Homo sapiens: one gene and its partners. The protein of the gene in region 2 purifies or fractionates together with the protein of the main gene of each other region. This does not show direct contact. Each region holds a gene or a part of one and is shown on either strand. Other genes may lie near its edges.

Region 1 (3,726 bases), on a different chromosome or scaffold from region 2:
ACCTCTATCATGTTTCTAGTAGCGCTTAGTGAATATGATCAAGTTCTCGTGGAGTCAGACAATGAGGTAAGTGTTCTTTAGACAGGCAATGGATTATCATTTTATTATCTGATACAAGTAAATGATAGAAAGTAGGGTGTGGGGAATGGAGTGAACTTACTTCTTTGCTTTCTTGAAATTTGATTTTAGGACTTTTAAAATAACCAAAAATAATCCTGTGGTAAGCTCTTCTGTCAGATGTGTGAGCAGGTCTTTGTGTTCAAATCTAATTAGAGCCTATTTGATACTTTTTAACACTATGCAGAGGTTCTGAAAATGAAAATAACATGGAAATCCTAGGCTAATCATCAGATCATTTTATAGTCTTCCTCCTACAGGATAGAACTGGGAGTGTTGGAGTGAGTCATCCTGTTTTGTTTTGTTTTCATTTTGTTTAAATCATTGTTTGTGTGATGGGTGTGTCCCAAAGAGTACTCAAAATCTCTCTTGGCAAATGTGAATGACTTCGCAGCTGGGCTCTAAATCAGTTCATTATGAACCATGGAATATCTTGGTGATGCGGCCTTTCTGCTCTTATAGAATTCTCTAGGCTGTTGCATAATTTTGTCTCTATTAAGCAGTGAGCAGTTGAAGAAGTATCCTTAATATGCCTGTCTGGAGAACAATTTCAGTATTGTTATCTCCTCCCTGTTACAGGGAAACTTAATAGGTGTAAATGTGGATTTTCAGGATGGTAAAGACCTGACGATGAATCGATTATGGAATATATTAAGGGATGTAGAAATCTGTACTTCTGAGCTGTAGTTGTGTGCATGTGTATGTGTGTGTTGGGGGAACGGGGAAGACACCATTGATATCCTGTTAGAGGCAGAGATTGCAGTGTGGTAGGTTAATAATAAATATTAAATATCCCAATAATAGGGTAGCAAAAAAGAAGGAAGTGAGAGATCCCCGTTTGCTGACTAAAATAGGATCTAGCATATTATGCTTTTAATACAGTACATTTTTTAGGTACACAAGAATTCCTGACTGGTTCTTTTAAATATTTTTCTGCCAGTATTAATATCTCCATTAAAATACATATCCAAGCTCCTATAGTATTTCTTTTATGTATAGGATTGATAAAGTTTCCGTGAACCAATGTCTATATAGAACCGAGAGTCACCTGTTCATGCATTTCGGAATCATTCCTGAGTTACAAGTATATTGGCTTTGGAGTTAACCAAATAACTTCTGTTTAAGAATGAGGCTTGTTTATCAATCAGTTGCCCCCAATAACTCTAAAGCAAAGTGCCTAAAAGCATGCTACAATATATGACAGTAAGTTACCAAGATACAAGGCAGTTACTGTCAGAATTTTAGCTATGATATCTTTATCTGTATATCTTTATGTCTGTGCTTGTTTGTTACATAATCCCTGGATGTAGTATTTTAAACATACTGCATATTTTGGGAGCAGATCTATTCTAACACTTCTGATTTTTTTGAATGTTGTGTCAAGACAAAAAAATATTTTGAGGGCTTCCCTACTATATGCTGGGTACCAGAGTATCTAAAAAGACACAAAAATGGGGAAAAAAATCAACTCTGCCCTAGAAGACCTTATAAACAAGATATGCTTTTGGTCAGAATAAGCCATAGGGGGAAAGGTAAGCCTTTGTTATGTAGGTTGTCATTTCTCTTCTTTAATTTGCCATCCAGTAAAATAAAATTTGCATTTATCAATTACACAAGAGATGTAAGAAGCAAATGTGAATTTATTTCTGATGTTTACATTATAGCTAGAGGAGGACAAGTGTTTATCAATACACATTTTCCACAAGATAAATGCATTATATATATATGAAGAAGTATATGTCATGATGTAATACTTATCAATTTACCACTTCAAAATTATCAAAATAGAAAAGAAAGTAGAATCCTTTGGCAACTCATCAGCTAATTCAGTTCAACCGAATTGAATCTGGTTCTTCAGTTATCTGAACATTACAGATCATTTATTCCATTTTTCCTCAGACATAGCTAATAGTGACTAGATTTTTATATAAAAGTATATTATGTTAATTAGAATAAAATGGCATCGTTTTTATTATCATGTGTCATAATTAAAGTTCCCACAGTAACTTGACATTCAATGTACAGGTACTAAGAACGTCTAAAAATATTGTCCCAGTTCCTTTGATTCCTGTGGTGATGTCTTATGCTACTTTTAAATAATTACAAATTAAAATAATAAAGCTATCATTTTTTCATTAGGACTCCCTAATCACTTGTGAATCTTTTGAAAGTCTAGGTAATTCTATAAGATGAAAGTCAACTTGTACGGTGTTCCTTTCTGAGACCTCTAGTCAAGCCTGATGATAGTATGGGATCATGAGAAAAGTGCTGTTCATTAATTCCTTCATCCATATTAGCCACAGCTATCACTGTCTGTAATTAGGAAGTACTGTCAAAAAAATATTTTTTAATGTTGGGATGTAGTCTCATTACCCCTTTTTTTCCCCAGTTGTACTAATGTATGATAATGTCATTGCCTCTCAGCTTCCTTAATCATTAAGAAAATTCAGAACTACAGAATTCTAGTTTCCCCAGATTTTTTGGTTTTGGTGAGACAAAACTGAAATAAACTCCAGAAACATTTTGTTCTTGGTTTAGAAGTCTGATGTTCATAACTTTAATCCAAAGCAGACTTTGTTGTGCCTCCCTCCCTTGGTATATATTTGTGAGAAAAACCTAGGAATGGATTCTGACAGCTTTTCTTTCTATCCCAGGAAACTGTGGAAAATGCATTGCAGACCACAGACAAAAGCAGCTAAGGGAAGCATTTTAGATTATTGCTTTTGCTTTTTAATATTTCTAAAACCTTATAAATCTTCATAATTTTATGTAGGTCTGCTTTTGTCTGCCTAGATTCTCAGCCTTTCTATTGTTTGGGGAATGAATTTCTTTTTTCCTTCAAAGAAGGAAATACATTATCAAATAGTGGCTAGAATACCCAGGGTGGTAGAGCTGTGTTGATTTGCGTATTCCCTTTACTGTCTTATTGATGTGTGTATTCCCTTTGCTGTCTTATTTTCCCTGTGATAACACACCAGCATGGAATCCACTATTCTGCTGTAATCCTTTCATGGGTATGTTATTTCAGTGCTCCTGAAAGCCCAAAGCACACAATAAGACATGCTTATAACATATTTTAGTTTATCAGTGTGTATCCAAACACTGCCTTTTAATCTTTATTTTTCTGATTTTCTGTTTCATGAATATCTGAGCACTACTACAAAGATGTTTTCTCAGACATTGTCTCAATGACTGTCTTCCAGGCTAAGCTCTTTATAGAATCTCAAAGACTGAGACCTTTTTCTCCTCCATGTCCTCTTTGAATGTGAGCTTTGAATTTATTAATCATCTTGAAATGGTCATGAGGAATTATGTTATCATTTTATTAAAACGTCAAGATAGTTCTCCCTACCCTAGGCCCTCCTTGATCAAGGTGGATTCCCTGACCTTGGTTTCCATAAACATGTATTCATCCTTCAAACCTGATTTTTGAAGTTGCTCAATTGATAAAAGGAAAGCATAGACGTTTATAATACCTTAGCACTTTATACCCAAAACTTGCTGAAGCTGCTACTCATCAGAATCTACCAGCTGACCTCACCGTGGCGGGGACAGATCAGGTTTGCTGGTGTGCGTCATAACGATGAGGTTACAGGAATGAAGAGATGA
Region 2 (3,726 bases):
CAGCTGCTAAGGCCTCGGCCCAGGCCTGAAGAGGCTGCCCCCACACGCGCTGGTTCATGGTTCCTGGCCCTCCGTGGCTTGTCTGTCCACTCTTGTGCCAATTCTAGGTTATTAACCTGGGGACACTGGGGCTCAAAAGGACTGGTGTGCCAGCCTCACTCAGAGGGAGGCACTAAAAGGCAGAGAAAGAAGGGGCAGCCTCAGGGGGGTGCCAGGACTGTGCCAGCCCCCACCCTTTGGAGGCCATATCCACCCTCCCCTCCTGAAGTGTCACTGGGCCTCAACTCTGCCCCAACATCCTCTCTCTCTCGCGTGCTCTCTCTCTCTCCTCCAAAAAGCAAATATTTGGAAGGGGACTTTGACATCTTCTTTCTAGTTCAGATGTTTATATCTCTTTGAGTCACAGACCCCTTTGAGAATCTAATGAAAGCCGTGGGCCCATTTCCCCATTAAAATGCATGTATACACCAATATTTTCATTACATTCAGGGTCTCTGTGAACTGTTGAAGTTTCCAGTGGGCTGAGATTAAGAATTTCTGATCTGGTTCAACCACTTGATTTTATTATAGATGAAGACAAGACACTAAGGCCCAGAGAGGGCAAGTGACTTGCCTATGATCTCACAGCAAATTAGTGGCACAGCCCATTCTGAAGCAGTGGGCCCAGACTCCCAGTTCAGTGTGTCCTTTCCACTCCCCCAGATGGTGTCTCCCTCCCTTTCCTCTCCATAGCTCACTTCTCCATCAGTCCTGTCCTAGGGCCCTGCACAGAACAAAGTACACGTGACGTATGGTCAGTAAGTGTGGTTAACAGGCCAGCCGGAAGAAGGAACAGGCCAGCCGGAAGGAGGGCCAACTTCATTTAGCTGATTCTTCCCTGCAGGGCCAGGGTAGATGTGGTTTGATTGCAGAGACGTGAGGGGCTAGGTCAATGATTGGATGGGTCTGTTCCAGGGTGTTCCTGTGATGTCTCAGAGCTCCAGGCTGTCACCATGCGAGGGACCAAGAGAAGTGTCCTTAGGCTACAGAGCAGGGGACCAGAAGCATGCCCAGGCTTCCTCTAAATGCCAGGACCTTAGCTTTTAACACCACCTCCAGCCATCTCTCTTCCTCCTCTGCTCTGGAACCCATGCTGGCTCCCTAGTACCATAGCATCAGATTCAGATTTCTTCCCCTTGTGTCTTCTTTGCATAGGATGAGCTCATTTCTGCACTGGTCATTGTTGTCATCCTGTCCCTAGCTGGTGTGAGTGGGAACGAGTGGGGAGGTGGGCAGAACTCTGGAATGTCCTCTGCCTGCCTGGGGCCTTGGCCGGATATCTTGCTGTGCCTTACCAGCCGTCTCTGCCCCCAGGACTGCAGTGCAACGCATCCGTGGACCTCATTGGCACCTGCTGGCCCCGCAGCCCTGCGGGGCAGCTAGTGGTTCGGCCCTGCCCTGCCTTTTTCTATGGTGTCCGCTACAATACCACAAGTAAGGAAGAAGTGGAGGGTGGACCATCTGCTGGGAGGTGGGACAGGATGGGGAGAGCTTGGAGGTGGGGGAAGGAAGAATGACGATGACAATAACAGTAATACCTCTTGTGGGGATCGCCCCTGTTTTCCAAAGGTCAGCGCTGTATTCTCCTGGGTGCCCTGTGCTCATTACTCGTGATTCTCACAATACCCTTGCAAGACACTATCACGCCTCCTATAACTAAGGCCCCTGGGGCTCAGGGAGGTTAGGGAACTTGCCCCATTGGCAGCTGGTAAGGGGTGAAGCTGGAATTTGCATCCACGTCTGTCTGGCACTTTCTTCTGCCATTAAACTTCAGGTTAGTCTGTTTGAGCCTACTGTAATACCATGAAGCAGGGCAGGAATCATCAGAGCCCCAGCTGTGTGGATAAGAACCTTGAGTCGAGAGGTTCTGAGGCCTACCCCGGGCCCTCCAGCCAGGAGGCAGGGGACCCAGAGTTTCAGATGCACAGGCACAGGCTCAACTTGCATCCTGGATTTGTAGGTGGAGTGGGGCAGGACGGGGTTGACCCAGGGTCCGTCGGATACTTGATCCTCATGTAAACACCTGGCTCCCCGGAGGCCCGAAACCCCCAGAGCCGGGCTTTGCAGCTCCCTGCTATTCCGCCTGCCACTCTCAGAATTAATTTGCTCTCCCCTGTCAATGAGTCAGGTCCCTGCTTATCAAGAGAGCAACAGCTGTGGGCCAGGAGCCCTAACCTACCTGAGGGGAGGCTGGGGGCCTGATCCCTGCAATTGGGGCCTCCTGTGTGCACCCTTGGGTCCTTGTGGTCTTGAACTCAGAGTCCCAAGAGGGCACAGGGGTGAGCCCAGACACCATGTAGTTTACTCCAAGACTCACTGTGTGACCTCCCAGCACATTGTTGCCCCTCATCTGGCCCTCAGCCCCTCATCTGAGGATGGAGAGGGCTGGATGGCTTGGCTTCTAAGATGTCTTCCAGCTCAAAACTCCCAGATTCCTTCTCCTGCCCCTCTTTCCTCTACCAGATGGATTTGGGGTGTTAAGGTTGGGGGCTACAGCAGAGGAGTAGGAAGACCCAGCCAGAAAGTGACTCCCCAGGGAGTGACTTGGGAGGCCAGGGCAGGGCAGGAGGCTGGGGCAGCCAGATCTAGCAGCCTCGTGTGTCTGTACCATGTCCTGGCCATGGGAGGGACTCGGGAGAGGGAGAAGACACACTGGGAGGGGCTTGGGGGCCAAGGGGAGGAAGTGCAGAAAGGAAGAAGGGCCTCTTGGCCAGGTCAGTCCAAGGGGTGCACAGTTGGCCAGCCCCCAATATAGTCAGGCCCATTTTGTAATAAGGAAATTGAGGCACAGAGAGGCTAATAACCTATCGGAGGTCGCAGAGCCTGGAGGCAGGGTCACAGCCCAGGGACGATAACTCTCACGATGCTGGGGGCTGAGTCCTTCTGGAGCCCCTAGGAAGGAGGCAGCATCTGCACATCAGAGGAGCTTCCAGGAGGAGGCACCAGTTCCTGTCATGTCCACTTCCAGAGTGATCCTCGTGTCTGGGCCTACCTGCCCCCACTCCCCAGCGCCACCGCCCAGCCTCAGGTTTCAGATCTGAGTTGGTCACTCCTTCACTTGGAACCCACTCTTGTGTGGCCTCCGTGTTCAGGCTGCTGGGTGGGGCCGGCCAGGCTGTCTGTGGTCATGGCCCTGTCACCTTTTGCAGCCAGCCCTGGCCACCCCCCATGAGTTCCCTCTGCTCCCGTTGCAAAGGGTTACTTGACATGCTCCAGATAAACATTTTCAGCCCTCAGTGCCTGGGCACACACTTCACTTGCTGGCCCTGCCTGAAGTGGCAGTCAGGAGTCCTAAGTTCTCATTCCAGCTGCATCTGCAGCTGGTTAAGTAGCCCTTGGCACAGACCTTCTGTGGGCCTCAGTTTCTACACCTGCAGAATGGGTGGGAGGATTGAGTGTGGTGCTCTCTAGGCTCCCCCGCACTTCCCTCTGTGATCCCAGGAAAGGAGCTGGGGTGATGGCCTCTCGACATGGGGTCAGTCTGTGAGGGCAGGGCTGGAAGACCCCTTTCCAGGTGCCTCCAGCGCCAGATGAGGTGGAGCACGCCCGTGCAGTCAGTCACAAGTGGGTACCCAGAGCTGCACCTCATCATTAAGCACTAATTAATCCATTTACTGATGAGTTGCTGCCAGGACTTCTAGGCCTTCTCCCTAATGCCCTCCCTCCTGCTGCATCTGATCTTCAAAG
Region 3 (3,500 bases), on a different chromosome or scaffold from region 2:
GCGCTGGCACTGCTTCCTGCTGCTCCTGGGCCTCCACTGCAGCCTGGGGCAGGTGGAGGTCTAGGGGGTTGGCTGTCAGCCATCTATGATCTCTGACTTCTTTCTCTTTTCTCAAATGGTGGTATCTCTTCTTTGAATGTACCCCGGCGTCTGCTTCCTCTGGGGAGCTTGTAAGGATGAGCTGTGCTCTCAGCTCCTTGGCAATGGGTTCCAGGCAGCGTGCCGAGGGAGGGCAGTCAGGCCTGGGGGGCTGGCAGGGGTCTCAGTGCCGGCGCCTCCCCTGCCCTGCAGGATCTCCCCTCCTCACTGCCCTCCCCGAGTCTCCAGGATCAGCCGCCTTTTGGGGCTCCCTCCAAGGCCCTCTCCCCATAAAACCAGGTTTGGTTATGCCTGTCCTCTGCTCCCCAAGTCCTCCCCTGCACTGCCACTCCTGGGACCACAGACTGTGATCATCTTTCTCCAGCTGGACTCTGAGCTCTCGGAGAGCAGGAGCCTGATGTGGTCATTCTTACATCCTCGGGGCAGCCCAGCAGAGAGCCCTGCACACAGATGCCAGGCAGTACTGACTGGAGGAGCGAGTGTGGTGTGAGTCGTGCTCTGTGGCCCTGAGATGTAGGGGCTGTGGCGGGGGCTCAGCCTTAACCAGTGGAACTGTGGAGCCTAAATGAGCCGGACTTGATTTCTCCTCCACACCTAAGCTCAGTGGCCAAGGGGGCACAGTCCCCACTCCCAGCTCAGGTCACTCTAGTGGCTGCTCCTGGCAGTGCCTGGGAAGATGTGCAGTGGAGGAGGGAGCTTGGCTCTGGCTGTGGGTTTCCAGCTCTCTGTTAGGCAGCTGCAGGCCAAGGTGGCTCTGTGGAGTGGGGAGCATGTTCCTGTGGAATCCTTGGGGTCTCAGAGCCTCACCACTCTGGCCTCATAATGTGGCTCAATGAGCTTGAGTGTGGACAGCCCGAGGCCCTGGACACAGGTTCACTGGGCCTCCCAGAAGCCTCCGGCTGCCCTTTTCTGAACAGATCCCAGTGAGGTGGCTCAGGGCAAGCGAGACCTGCTCCTCCCCGGAGGGATCACACAGATGACAGGGAAATGCTCCTGGGGAATCAGAATGAAATTTACTGATTGAGGATAGGAGAGTGATGAGATCATATGAGTTTACTGAATCTGTTTAGCAGAATGAAAGGGCAGTGCCGTGTACTACAGCTCCTGGGGGGTGGGGAATAACGCCATGCCAGCTGTCCAGGTGCCCCTGAGAGGCAGCTGAGAACGCTGCCCTCCGCCGACCAACTTCAGCTAATAGGAACCAGGGGCTGGGGCTGGCCGCCTCTACAGGTCATGGTAGAATGATGTAGGCACGGGGGAGATACTGAAGGGAGGACTGGCCGTAAGACGCACGGAGCCCGCCATGCTGCTGTTAGTATCGATTCCTCGAAAGCCCCACAGCCTGCTGATATGGACTGGAGAGACCCATTGCATAAGTTCTGGATCTGGCCCAGCTGTGTCACCGCGGTGTCCCCTCAGGCCAGATGAGGTTAAGTGACATGGGCAGGGAGAGCGCTGGCACAGTGTGGGCCTCAGTGACTGGTGTGGTCACTTCATCTTCATTGCCCTCCTTCTGCTCAGAGGGGGGCGGTGTGGCAGTGGGACCAGCAATTCCTCAGCACCCACGGTGTGCTCACCCCTGGGGGAGGAGGTCATCTCCCCGTAGATGCCCAGTGGCATCTACACCAGCTGTCTTCTTTTTCTTGTTACTTGTGTCACTCTTCTTATTTCAGAGGTAGAGTTTAGCCTGGTTCACCTCTGGGCTTTAGATCCAGAGAGCTGGGTTTACAGTGAGCAAGTTCCCAGGGCTAGGACAGGGTTCTTGGGGAAAATAAGGGAAACTGTCCCTTCCTCCCACTCCCTGTGCAGAAATGGATTCGTTCACAGAGAAAGATGCCCTCTGTGCTGCTGAGAGACAGACTCTGCCCAAGTGAATGAGCTCAGCGCCCCAAAGCAGAGTTTTTGCCCAGGGCAAGAGGCTGCCCCCGTTCGGCATCTGTGGGGCGCCCATCACGTTCATCCATTTGCTAAACAGGCTCCTGTGTGCAGGGCAGCCCTCCACATCTGCCTTGCTTAGAACATCATGCAGTGTCAGATGCAGCTGAGTAGGACCCAGCCAGAGGAGGTGTGGCCAGTCCCCCAGGTGCTCCTGGAGGTGGCCCTGCCAGGAGCCTCTCCCCTGAGTGGTGGCACCCAGGATGCTGGCAGGACCTGGCATGCCTTCCCCTGAGACCATAGGAAGGGCCCGGAGTCTCTCACCACTCCCAGAGAACATCCCCCTACCCAGGATGGGCCCAGGAGGAGAGGTCTAGGCAGGAAGGGCCAAAGCCCAGCTCTCCGGCTCCGGTCCAGACTCCCCCAACGCCCACACACACAGGCACACACACAGGCACGCACACACACTCAAGCACATGGATGCACACAGGCATGCACACACAGGTGCACACACATAGGCACACATGCACACGAACACACACAGGCACACATAACAGGTGCATGCACACACACACAGGCACATGCACACAGCCACACACACGTGTGCTGGGAGACCCTCACATAGCTGGGAACTCTGCAGTGGGGAGAGCCCGGGTCACCCTGTCCTCAGCCTCCCCAGAGAGCCATGGCTGGTGTCCAGTCCAGTCTCTGCCTCTGGCCCCGACATGACGGGTTCTCCGGAAGCAGGGAATGAGATGTGCTGTGAGGTGTAACTGACTCAGGTTCCATCTGGCAGCCTCTCGGAGGAGCTGCCGAGTAGCCCAGTCCCTCTCTGTCAAGCCTAATTCTCTCCTTCTCTTTCCCTGTCTCTGTGTCTCCCTCCCGCTGTCTGTCCTCTCTCCTCCCTTCCTGCGGCCGCAGAACCGCATGCACGAGTCTCTCATGCTCTTCGACTCCATCTGTAACAACAAGTTCTTCATCGATACCTCCATCATTCTCTTCCTCAACAAGAAAGATCTCTTTGGCGAGAAGATCAAGAAGTCACCTTTGACCATCTGCTTTCCTGAATACACAGGTGGGTGCCAGGCAGTCCTGTGCAGGGGGAAGCCTGCCCCTGACAGGGACCCATGGCTCAGAGAACAGGCTGCTCGGCCAGCACTGCTGGGGCTAGCTGGCGAGCGGGACCCATTGCAGGAGACTGGTGGGGCGCAAAAGAAAAACAGTGCTGTGCCACCAGGTTTGGGCTTCCCAGGACACAGCCCTCAGCGTGGTGGAAATGGCCCCTCCTAAGATATATGTGTTAGGACCAAGTGACTCAGGAGTGGTGGGGAGCAGGGGGCAGGACAGGATCACAGGCTTCCCCCTTCCTCCTGGTCACCCTCTAGAAGAGGTCTCAGGACAGCCTCCTGTAATCTCAGCAGTGGCCTCCCCTCACCCCTGCCCAGAGCCCCACAGCACCTTTGCATGAAACCGAAAAGTGGACACGTGGCCTGTGAACAGGGCCTGGACTGCCTCTTGGCCCCACC

Evidence for each region.
Region 1: the proteins of CRHR1 (region 2) and GNAQ purify together in Homo sapiens (affinity purification with western blotting, with the first as the bait; one study listed by BioGRID). This does not show direct contact.
Region 3: the proteins of CRHR1 (region 2) and GNAO1 purify together in Homo sapiens (affinity purification with western blotting, with the first as the bait; one study listed by BioGRID). This does not show direct contact.

What each region holds. Positions count from the first base shown.
Region 1 is NC_000009.12:77,790,803-77,794,528, reverse strand, and holds part of GNAQ (guanine nucleotide-binding protein G(q) subunit alpha), read left to right. Parts: coding exon 1-66; intron 67-3,726.
Region 2 is NC_000017.11:45,815,110-45,818,835, forward strand, and holds part of CRHR1 (corticotropin-releasing factor receptor 1 isoform 2 precursor), read left to right. Parts: intron 1-1,353; coding exon 1,354-1,473; intron 1,474-3,726. Other genes in the region: LINC02210-CRHR1 (CRHR1-IT1-CRHR1 protein), read left to right, coding at 1,450-1,473.
Region 3 is NC_000016.10:56,348,489-56,351,988, forward strand, and holds part of GNAO1 (guanine nucleotide-binding protein G(o) subunit alpha), read left to right. Parts: intron 1-2,895; coding exon 2,896-3,049; intron 3,050-3,500. UniProt on the Homo sapiens protein: Guanine nucleotide-binding proteins (G proteins) function as transducers downstream of G protein-coupled receptors (GPCRs) in numerous signaling cascades.